Linked DNA regions of Homo sapiens. The protein of the gene in region 3 purifies or fractionates together with the protein of the main gene of each other region. This does not show direct contact. Each region holds a gene or a part of one and is shown on either strand. Other genes may lie near its edges.

Region 1 (3,660 bases), on a different chromosome or scaffold from region 3:
AATATCCAACATAACTAGAAAGGGAGAGAAAAATATAGACTTATCACTCACAGGTAAATGAAGAGGAAATAAAAAACAAGTACACAGCTATTCAGTAGAGTCTGAATAAATTTCCAAATCTGAGCTTTATATACTAATGTCATTATTTCCATCTCTTCTTCCCACAAGGATGTTGTCAACTGATCGAAATTTTAACTTATTTTGTTAAATATCATAATAAATCACCAAATTACTATATATGACTCAACCCGTCTTTAAAAACTCTAATTCTGTGACTATTACCACTACACACATTCATCTAAAAATGTGGCTCCTTAAATTTCCAACCAACTCACATTTCAAAATATCTTTTAAAAACAAGAAAATAACTTCTAATGAGAGCACAACCAATGATTTTATACAACCACTCCCAAAAGGGAGAGAAACAAACTACAGTCTTACAGCTTTCTACCATTTCTAATGTCTTCTTCCCAGTATGATTTTTTTTTTTTAAGATGGTCTTGCTTTGTTGCCCAGGCTGGAGTGCAGTGGCGCCATCTCGGCTCACTGCAACCTCCACCTCCCAGATTCCAGCGATTCTCCTGCCTCAGCCTACCAAGTAGCTGGGACTACAGGCCATGCGTGCCACCACACCCAGCTAATTTTTTGAGTTTTTAGTAGAAACGGGGTTTCACTGTGTTAGCCAGGATGGTCTCGATCTCCTGACCTCATGATCCACCCGCCTCGGCCTCCCAAAGTGCTGTTTTTTATCCACCAAGACAATGCTACATTTGTAAATACTAATATTTGCGAAGATCCCGTCTCATTTATCCTTCTTCCAGCTATACCCATACCCAAGCCTGAATTCAAATTATTTTAGCCTCAAAAATGTAATGAAATACTAGAAACTTACTCTTTGTTCTTTATCTCCTATCAAACAAACAGATCTAAGTGTTGGTACCCATCTCTTGAATTCACTCATCCAGTTGTGTAATGTAGACTTAGGAACCAAAACCATATGAGGCCCAGGAATGTTTCTATAATGTTTCATGTACCCAAGAAGAGAAATTGTTTGAAGAGTCTTTCCTAGGCCCTGAAAGATTTCAAAATAACCATGAAGCAGTGAAAAATGAAAATATTATTTCACAATTATACCTCCCAACATATAGAAATGTTCAAAAGAAATGCTACATATTTATAACAGTTAATAAATGGCAAAAACTTAACATATATCAAAGTTTGTAAGTGTTATGTCATATAATTTTCACAAGTCTCTAAAGGAGGTATTATTATCACCCGCATAAGGCCCCGTTTAAGTGACATTCCCAAAGTCATCTAGCAGAGCTAGCATTGAAACACATTTCTTTTGACTTCATACTTTCTCCAACCAATTAAACGTTTTAGCATTATAGCAATAAGGAAACTTTTTTAAACATTCATTACATAACTAGTAGTTAACAAAAGATAAATGTTTTCTAAGAATTGTACAAGCTACCACCTGGAAAAAACATTTATCAATTATAAACAATTAATGACCTCACTTTTGTTTTACAAAACTGGAAGCAAATAAATCATTGTACTATAAAAGTCATCCAAAAACATGTTTCTCAAATGTATTCTTTTTAAATTTATCATATTTTCAGCGATGGAAATTTCTCACAATTAAAATACAGATCACACTTATGCAACTAAGGCAAGCTGCTTATACTAGTTTCTGAGAGGATCCATTTGCTAACAGTTGTAGACTGTAAGAAACTTTTATCAACGTATAAGATATTTTCAATACAAAACATACCCTTCAAAAAAAACTACCAACACATACCATTTCATCTGCAAGGATACCATTGATGCCATTCTCATACAAAGAAATGAGCCAGTTTAATCCTCGGACCTGATAATCTCTCAGTTTACCCCATTTTACATCTAAGAACAAAAGAAAAGCACAATAGGCATTTTAAGACAAGAAATACAAGGCAATCTCTTCATCTAAGCCTACACATATCTACTGACTTTATTTTCATTACTAACGGATTCTTGAATAGGAACTCTGCAAGTTCCAAAATACTAGAGGTAGCTGCCATGGTCTGAAGTGGAAAAGCTGGACATGGAAGATAATCAAGTGCGGGAAACATGACTGCGGGCATCAGAGTACCCACTCCAACAACTCAGTTCTTACGTTACCCATATACTGGTCTGAGAGACTCTTTGGCCTCTCGTCTTTTTAATGAAAAACCAAGTGTTCCTAACCAAGTATTTTCAGCTTTCATAAAGACCAGATACAGGTTATCTGGGGATTTTATTTTCTTTCTAGTAAAAAAAAAAAAAAAAGAAATAGGAAATTCCTAAGTTACTTGTCCAATATATCTTATACATTCCAATGCACTCTCTTTCAGGGTATACTACTTATTTTGCTCCCCAGAATAATTACCAAATATACATAACGGTCACCTGATTTTTCTTTTTTAATATGTACACAGTGTAGCCCTCCATCTCCTTTTGAAAAACACTTGAGGATAAAAAGCTAACCAATAAACAAATACATTTCACAAAAAATTAAATTAATATAAAAACATCAGAAGTAAGCAAATGTGTTCATGAAGTACCTTTTTTAAAATAAATTAGTTTTCTTATGTGGGACAAATATAAAGCAAAACGATCCTTAGATTTACATATACTTCAGGGCAATAACAAACACAATGACATTTTATATAACTTTGAAATACAGCACTACTATCCTGTAATATGCTCTCATCTCCATCAAAATCTGAAGTTTATTTCATAACCAATAAACATCTAAGACTACTAAAAATTTGCTTCACAAATAGTAGCCAACACAAATCCAAAACATTAACCAAAGGAGATCTCAAAGGGCAATTTTTTAAAAAAATCAAGTGTGTTTAACATACACGATGGAGAGTCTTCAAATCGAGTGCAAACATTGGTTGCTTTGGAGCTTTCTGTTAATAGCTCTTCATCCTCCTCTTGCTCTGTTCTACGGTGTCGGTAACTGTTAAGATGAAAATAAAATAACCTGATTTGAGTTTTGGCTTTAATTATCAGCTACTGTTTAAACATCATAGTCAAGTGGCTGACCAAGATTCCACAAAATTAAATTTTTAACAGGCATCAACCAGTGGACAGTAGAAAATATGAGTACATTTAAATCTGCAATGTTTTAAATAATTATTTAAAATATACATTAGTTATTAAAATACACCAGTACGATACATTAACCAGAACCCAATAAACTCAAATATGATAGTCAAATTTCAAGAACTATGTAGTCAGAAAATCTCATTATTTGAATTTTAAAGTGTACCTTTTTAAAAATCTTTTTGCCAAGGAAAAAAAAGTTCCAGAAACCACATGTTTAAAATTGTAACTTCGAGCAAAAGCTGCAGCATAAGGACTCAGAAATTTAAGCAGTGACCACGGATTCATCAAAAAAATTTTTAAATACACATCTAAATTCTACATCCTAAGAGAATCAGATATACTACCCCCTTAAAAACTGATTTTCTAAAGTTTTAATACTGCCAATTAATCTCTAAAGGGCTTGGTTCAGTAAAACTATTAATACTTACTCCCCAATTCTGACACTTTCAACAAATATTTTCATCTTATTTAGAAAAAGGCACGTTATGCCTCTGTTGAGACCGCTGAATCTAATTTGTAACTTCA
Region 2 (2,700 bases), on a different chromosome or scaffold from region 3:
TGGGGTAAGGGGAACACCTTAATGAACTTTGACTTATGTATAATTCAGATATCTTTGTACTTAAGGCTTACAAGTTTGAATTATGGAATACTATAAGGGTTTTTTGTTTATTTGTATGTTTTTATATGAAAGTACATAAATGACAGACTACCTCCAAGTAATCCTGCTTTAATTAATAGCAGTGATTTGTAATCAGTGTATCTTTTAAGATTCTCTACAGGTTTTAGAAAATATTAAAAATTCCCTGTAATTTACATTTGTGCATAATCTTGGAAATGGGTTGAAAAGCAAAGGTAAACTGCTTCATCCCATGTTGTATATTTGTGGACTGATTGACTACAAGTGATGTGATGTTATAAATTTGAAGTCTTTGAAACTTTATTAATGTAGAGAAAACATAACTAGCTTTTTAGGTTATTTCAAAGTTAGTAATAGAGCAAAGGAAATCAGAACTGGCCAGATATTCAGACTTGACTTAGAAAAACAGGAGTTTGTTGATTTTGTTTGGAGAAGGGCACAATAAAGGGGAGCCCACATAGCATTATAATGCCTAGTATCTTTAAACATGTAAAGAGCTATCATGAGGCAGAAGAATTAAGAAACTTTATATGTTTCTAAGGGGTCATGATTGGGACCATTGGCTCAAGATTGAAAATCGGTTTTTAATTATCCAAAGATGAAATGGGGCTGCTTCAGAAAAAGGTCTACCACTGGAGATAACGCTATGAAAAGTGAAAGAGATTACTTAATCATTTTGACAAAGGCAGTATTGACCAGACATTTCTATTTCAGAGTTGGATTTGTGCTTAGTTTTTTTTAGGTGTTGGGACCCTTGTAGTTGCTTTTTATTTTGCTTAGTCAACAAACACTAAAATGATAAAATTTGGTATGTATAAGTACTGGACGAAGGATGTTTTGACACTAAAAAGGACATAATTTAGGAAATTAAGAATTTAGACACCAAGTTTGGCTTAATAGAAAAAGTCACTATCTGAACTTCTTTCTTTTTCACCACAAATCACCGCAGACCAGTGTTTGGGAGCAGGTGTAGGAAATTGAATTATTGGATCTATGTTTAGGTAAGAAAACTAAAGGTACTTCAGAATTTAGGCTATGACATAACTGTCTTTCTGAAGTTTAAAGAAAGAAAGTGAACTATAGAAATCTATTCAGCTAATTAAAGTGAATGAAAAATATTACAGATTCCATAACTGCATGGCGCCTTACCTGCTATTAATACTGCCGCCTTACTGTCAGCCAGATGATTTTTTCCCACCACGGCCAGTCTTAAATTTGGCAATAAGAAAAAGCTAATCTTCCAAGTGTAAGTAGGTATGTGTTAGAATCTTGGTGAAAGATAAACACAAGACAGTCTTCTTGGCGCAGGTCCTAACAGTTGGTGAGATAATACATAAGATGGTTTCAGGATTATTGTAGAATTATTTAGGTTGAAAGAGACTGTAAGAGACTAATGAAGCATACCCAGAGAGGTTGCTACAGTGACTCCAGTCAGTTTTAGGACCCAGGACTCCTGAACTTCAATTTCAGTATTATTTTTCTGTACCAAACTCATTCAATAAATACTTGAGATTAGGGATAAGTTTGAAGTTAGAAGATTCCAGAGTACACTCAAATAGTATTTGGCACATAGCTTGTTGATCAAAAGTATTTACTAAGTGAGTGACAAAAGGCACTAGCAACTTTAAGGATTTTGCCTATTAGTATCATATGGCATGTAGCTATCAAGCCAGTTTCGTTTAGTTATTTTGTGTTGCCAAGCATATGATACGTGGTGTCACACTGAGCCTTTGGGATCCTTTCCCTGGATACATAACCCTAGTAGATAATGTTACTGCAAGATGTAATGACCAAATCCAACCTACTGCAAATGTTACTATGGAAATCTCAATGCAAAAGTAGCCTTTGTGATTTTTTTTTTAAACCGTCTCCATAACAGAACACTTAGAATTATTAGCCATTTGCTGCAAAGTATTTGTTTTAAAATGTCTGGCATATACACCACTAACATTTAAATGCCCAACATTCGGTCTATACGTGAAAAAACTAGAAGAAAAGCCCTGTTGGAGTTTTGATGTAGAGTGCAATAATACATCAATAAAGGTATTTTAAAATGACCTAATGTTTTAGTTGCCAACATGATTTTTGTATTTGTAAAGAGGTATGTTGGGTTTTGGCATTTATATTTTACCGTATGAAAGACATATTCATGTAAAAGGTAATGTGAAGCTTAGCATCTCTTGTCAACCTGTCCCCTGTTTCCAAGTAGTCTCCTTGGATATTTGTAGCATCTGGATTCCTAATAATCCAGATAATTAGGATTATGGCATTTATGTACAGACATGGGTAATTCTCCAAAGCAGATCTTCCCACACTAATTTTTCAAGTACTTGTCACCTAAATCATTAATAAAATGTGCCAATTCCAAATAATAGCAAATGTAGGAATTGAATCAGCATCCCAGAGTACTAGTCCTGGGCCATATCCTCATTAGGCAAAGGAAATTTGAAGAAGTTATTTTAGGACTTTACCTAAGGTGAAGTCTAGAATTTTACATATGTAGGTATGTTTTTGTTAGTCTTATATTTGCCTAAAAGTTATACGTTTTATTATTTCATAGGCGTAAATATGTTTTTATTAAAATCTTAGATTAGACTGAAGGCAGTGTTTTGGAGCCAGGAA
Region 3 (3,660 bases):
ATGTCAGGAGTTCGAGATCAGCCTGGCCAACATGGTGAAACCCTGTCTCTACTAAAAATATAAAAATTAGCCAGGCACAGTGGTGGGCGCCTGTAATCCCAGCTACTCGAGAGGCTGAGGCGGGAGAATTGCTTGAACCCAGGAGACGGAGGTTACAGTGAGCCGACATGGTGCCCCTGCACTCCAGCCTGGACAACAAAGCAAGACTCTGTCTTAAAAAAAAGGGGGCGGGGGAAAGGGGAAGAGAGGGGAGAGAGTAATAATTGCTACCGTTATAACCTACCAATGAATGCTAAAATTAATGGATAAAAGTTTAAGAAATAAAGTACAGTAAGTCTTCATTTAGCACTACTAATGGGGTTCTTGGAAACCGCAACACTAAGTCAAACAAAAGTATAGCACGTCTTCAAATAACATCATTTCGTTATAATGTTGATGAGGAAAAAAAATTGGTCTCATTTTATGTTGTTTTGCTTAAAGTCAGTTTCCAAGAACCTATCAAAGTTGAGGACTTACTGTATTTGCATATGCTCAAAGCATCCCCCCAAAACATATTATTATTTACAAAGTGATAAATAGTAAACTTTACAATGAAGAAACCTGGCAGACATCCCCTTAACCGAAGAATCACAGTTAACATTCCCATTAAGACATACTTATATTATCTATCCTCTGATATGTTATGCACAAAAGGCCATATCGGTATTATTCTTCCCAAAAATGTATTACCTCATTCTAATTACAAGAAAACATCTAATCATGAGCAACATATATTGCCCAGGCTGGTCTCAAACTCTTGTCCTAAAGCAATCCTCTTGCCTTCACCTCTCAACGCGCTGAGATTACAGGCGTGAGCCACCATGCTCAGTCAATTTCTTAGTTTTGATAATTGTACTATGGTTATGTAAGATGTTAACATTAGAAGAAGCTGATGAAATATACATGGGAACCTTCTGTATTGCTTTTGCAACTCTTGCAATAATCTAAAATTCTTTCAAGATAAATATTTTTTAAAAGTCTTGGCCAGGCACAGTGTCTCACACCTGTAACCCCAAAACTTTGGCAGGCCGAAGCAGGAGGATCACTTGAAGCCAGGAGTTCGAGACCAGCATGGGCAACAGAGCAAGGCCCCATCTCTACAGGAAATTTAAAAATTAGCTGGCCATGGTGGCGTGCTCAGGCACTCGACCTTGGGTAACAGAGCAAGACCTTGTCTCTAATTAAAAAAAAAAAAAATCTTGGCCAGGCACGGTGGCTCACGCCTGTAATCCCAGCACTTTGGGAGGCCGAGGCGGGCGGATCACAAGGTCAGGAGATCGAGACCACCCTGGCTAACACGGTGAAATCCCATCTCTACTAAAAATACAAAAAATCTGGCCGGGCGCGGTGGCTCACGCCTGTAATCCCAGCACTTTGGGAGGCCGAGGCGGGCGGATCACGAGGTCAGGAGATCGAGACCATCCCGGCTAAAACGGTGAAACCCCGTCTCTACTAAAAATACAAAAAATTAGCCGGGCGTAGTGGCGGGCGCCTGTAGTCCCAGCTACTTGGGAGGCTGAGGCGGGAGAATGGCGTGAACCCGGGAGGCGGAGCTTGCAGTGAGCCGAGATCCCGCCACTGCACTCCAGCCTGGGCGACAGAGCGAGACTCCGTCTCAAAAAAAAAAAAAAAAAAAAAAAAAAAAAAATCTGCTGGGCATGGTGGCAGGCGTCTATAGTCCCAGCTACTCAGGAGGCTGAGGCAGGAGAATGGCGTGAACCCAGAAGGCGAAGCTTGCAGTGAGCCAAGATCGCGCCACTGCACTCCAGCCTAGGCGTCAGAGCGAGACTCCATCTCAAAAAAAAAAAAAAAAAAAAAAATCTTGACTGATAAAGACAGTTAGTACTAGTTGCAATACTACGTTGTTTTTCACTTTAGGCTCACTGTCAACTCACCTGAACTGCAGGTATGGTTTCCAGTGAACGCTACATTATCCCCGCTCTTACTTTATGCTACATCAGTCCTATAACATAATCAAGCTTCAACACACTAATAATCTACCAAAAATAAAGTTATTCACCTAAGCTAAAAACTTTTTGACATCCTAAAAATCACTAGAGATCAAAATTTCATATTCAATTACATGAGCATTCACAAAGCTTTATTTTCAGTAGAAATCAACATCATTGCTTACTTCATAAAAGTAATAATTTAAATAAAATCCTTACCTTCCAACCACTGCCAGCCTCTCTATAATATGGGAAGTTATCACAAATCCACTGATAAATTTCACTTAAAGTCATTTTCTTTTTGGGTGAGCTATTAATTGCAAATGTAATGAGGCTGGCATAACTGTATGGAGGTTTCCCATCTTTGTGCTGTTGGACTTCTTCCTGGTCCAGAGTTGTATTTGGGTCAAGGAGTGCATTCTTCTTAGAAATTCCTGTTCCATGTGCATTTTGTGTAGCATCAGATTTTTGGATGGCTGCTCTCATGGTGAGCTGTGGTAACCAGTCCATAGACGTTAGGCTGCTCTCCAGTTCAGATGTCATCCTGAAGGTAAATAGACTCCTTAGTCAATATCAAGGAAAGAACCCCTGCTTCTCAAAATATCCAATATTCACAAATCTAGGAGTTCCAAAGTGAGGGAAAGCCTGAGTTACATCTGGAGGAAAAAGATTGAGTATGTTAATGAGCAAACCAAATATTTAAGGGATCAACATTCCAATCTTTTTTCTTAATTTTTTCCTCACCAAAACATAACAAACTTGGTTTTAAAATTGTTTAAAATACAGAATATAGACAAACAAAGTGGTTCCGATGCCAATCTTTCTAAAAATCACTGCCTGTTTCTTTAAGAGGGCAACAGGATCTTGGTAAGAAAAACCCAGCTGCAGCCCAACTCTTTTACTCACCACCACCACAAGCCGTTAAAAGCTTAAAATGTACCTCTGGCATTTCTTTTACACAAATTTTAGGAGAGTCATAAAAACAAATTACCAAAAAGTAAGGTGGAGGCAAGAGGTCAGAGAAGTAACTGAGAAACTGGCATAGGAATCTGCATGAAGGAAAGAAGGTAGAGTTTATGCAGGTAGGCGGTAGGAAGAGTAAAGCAGGGTATACAAGAATAGCAAGGAGACAAGCTAGCTGGGGGAGTTGACCGAAAAAAGGAATGCAAAGTCAAGGACACTGATGAGTGAGAGAAAAATTAAATTAGGCAGTACCAGGGAGTTACTTTTTTTAAAAAACAAGTCAAGGAACAGGTTTACAAAAACTAACTGAAATTGTGGGAGTACAGAATCTAAGGCATTAAATCACATAAATGGTCAGCAAGAAAAGAAGCATTAAAAACTAAAAGACAGGTTTGGGCAAACGTCCAGTGATTTGAATTCTGTAGTGTATTTCTCTCCAAAGCTGAAAAATTCAGACCATTACCACACAAAGAAAGAAAACTAAATCTGCCAGGTTAACACATATCCTCGAAAAGGGAGAAAGCTGCTCTAAGAATTGAAGATAAGAATATAGAAACAAGGCTTGACACTTCACATTGGAATTGTTAACTTTCAGCAGAGGACATAAGCCCTTCTATTCTGGGATCAAAGAAGCAGGAATAATGACTGACAATAAAGTAGAGAAGAATGAAAAGACTTCTAAGTGATATCAAAATAAAGGAAAAAAGGA

The links.
Region 1: the proteins of FOXJ3 (region 3) and SMARCA5 purify together in Homo sapiens (affinity purification with mass spectrometry; one large-scale study listed by BioGRID and IntAct). This does not show direct contact.
Region 2: the proteins of FOXJ3 (region 3) and ZBTB10 purify together in Homo sapiens (affinity purification with mass spectrometry; one large-scale study listed by BioGRID and IntAct). This does not show direct contact.

The regions. Positions count from the first base shown.
Region 1 is NC_000004.12:143,523,693-143,527,352, reverse strand, and holds part of SMARCA5 (SWI/SNF-related matrix-associated actin-dependent regulator of chromatin subfamily A member 5), read right to left. Parts: intron 2,987-3,660; coding exon 2,886-2,986; intron 1,903-2,885; coding exon 1,802-1,902; intron 1,073-1,801; coding exon 893-1,072; intron 1-892. UniProt on the Homo sapiens protein: ATPase that possesses intrinsic ATP-dependent nucleosome-remodeling activity.
Region 2 is NC_000008.11:80,524,131-80,526,830, forward strand, and holds the end of ZBTB10 (zinc finger and BTB domain-containing protein 10), read left to right. Parts: 3' UTR 1-2,135; downstream 2,136-2,700. UniProt on the Homo sapiens protein: May be involved in transcriptional regulation.
Region 3 is NC_000001.11:42,276,141-42,279,800, forward strand, and holds part of FOXJ3 (forkhead box protein J3), read right to left. Parts: intron 2,645-3,660; exon of another isoform or gene 2,533-2,644; coding exon 2,208-2,532; intron 1-2,207.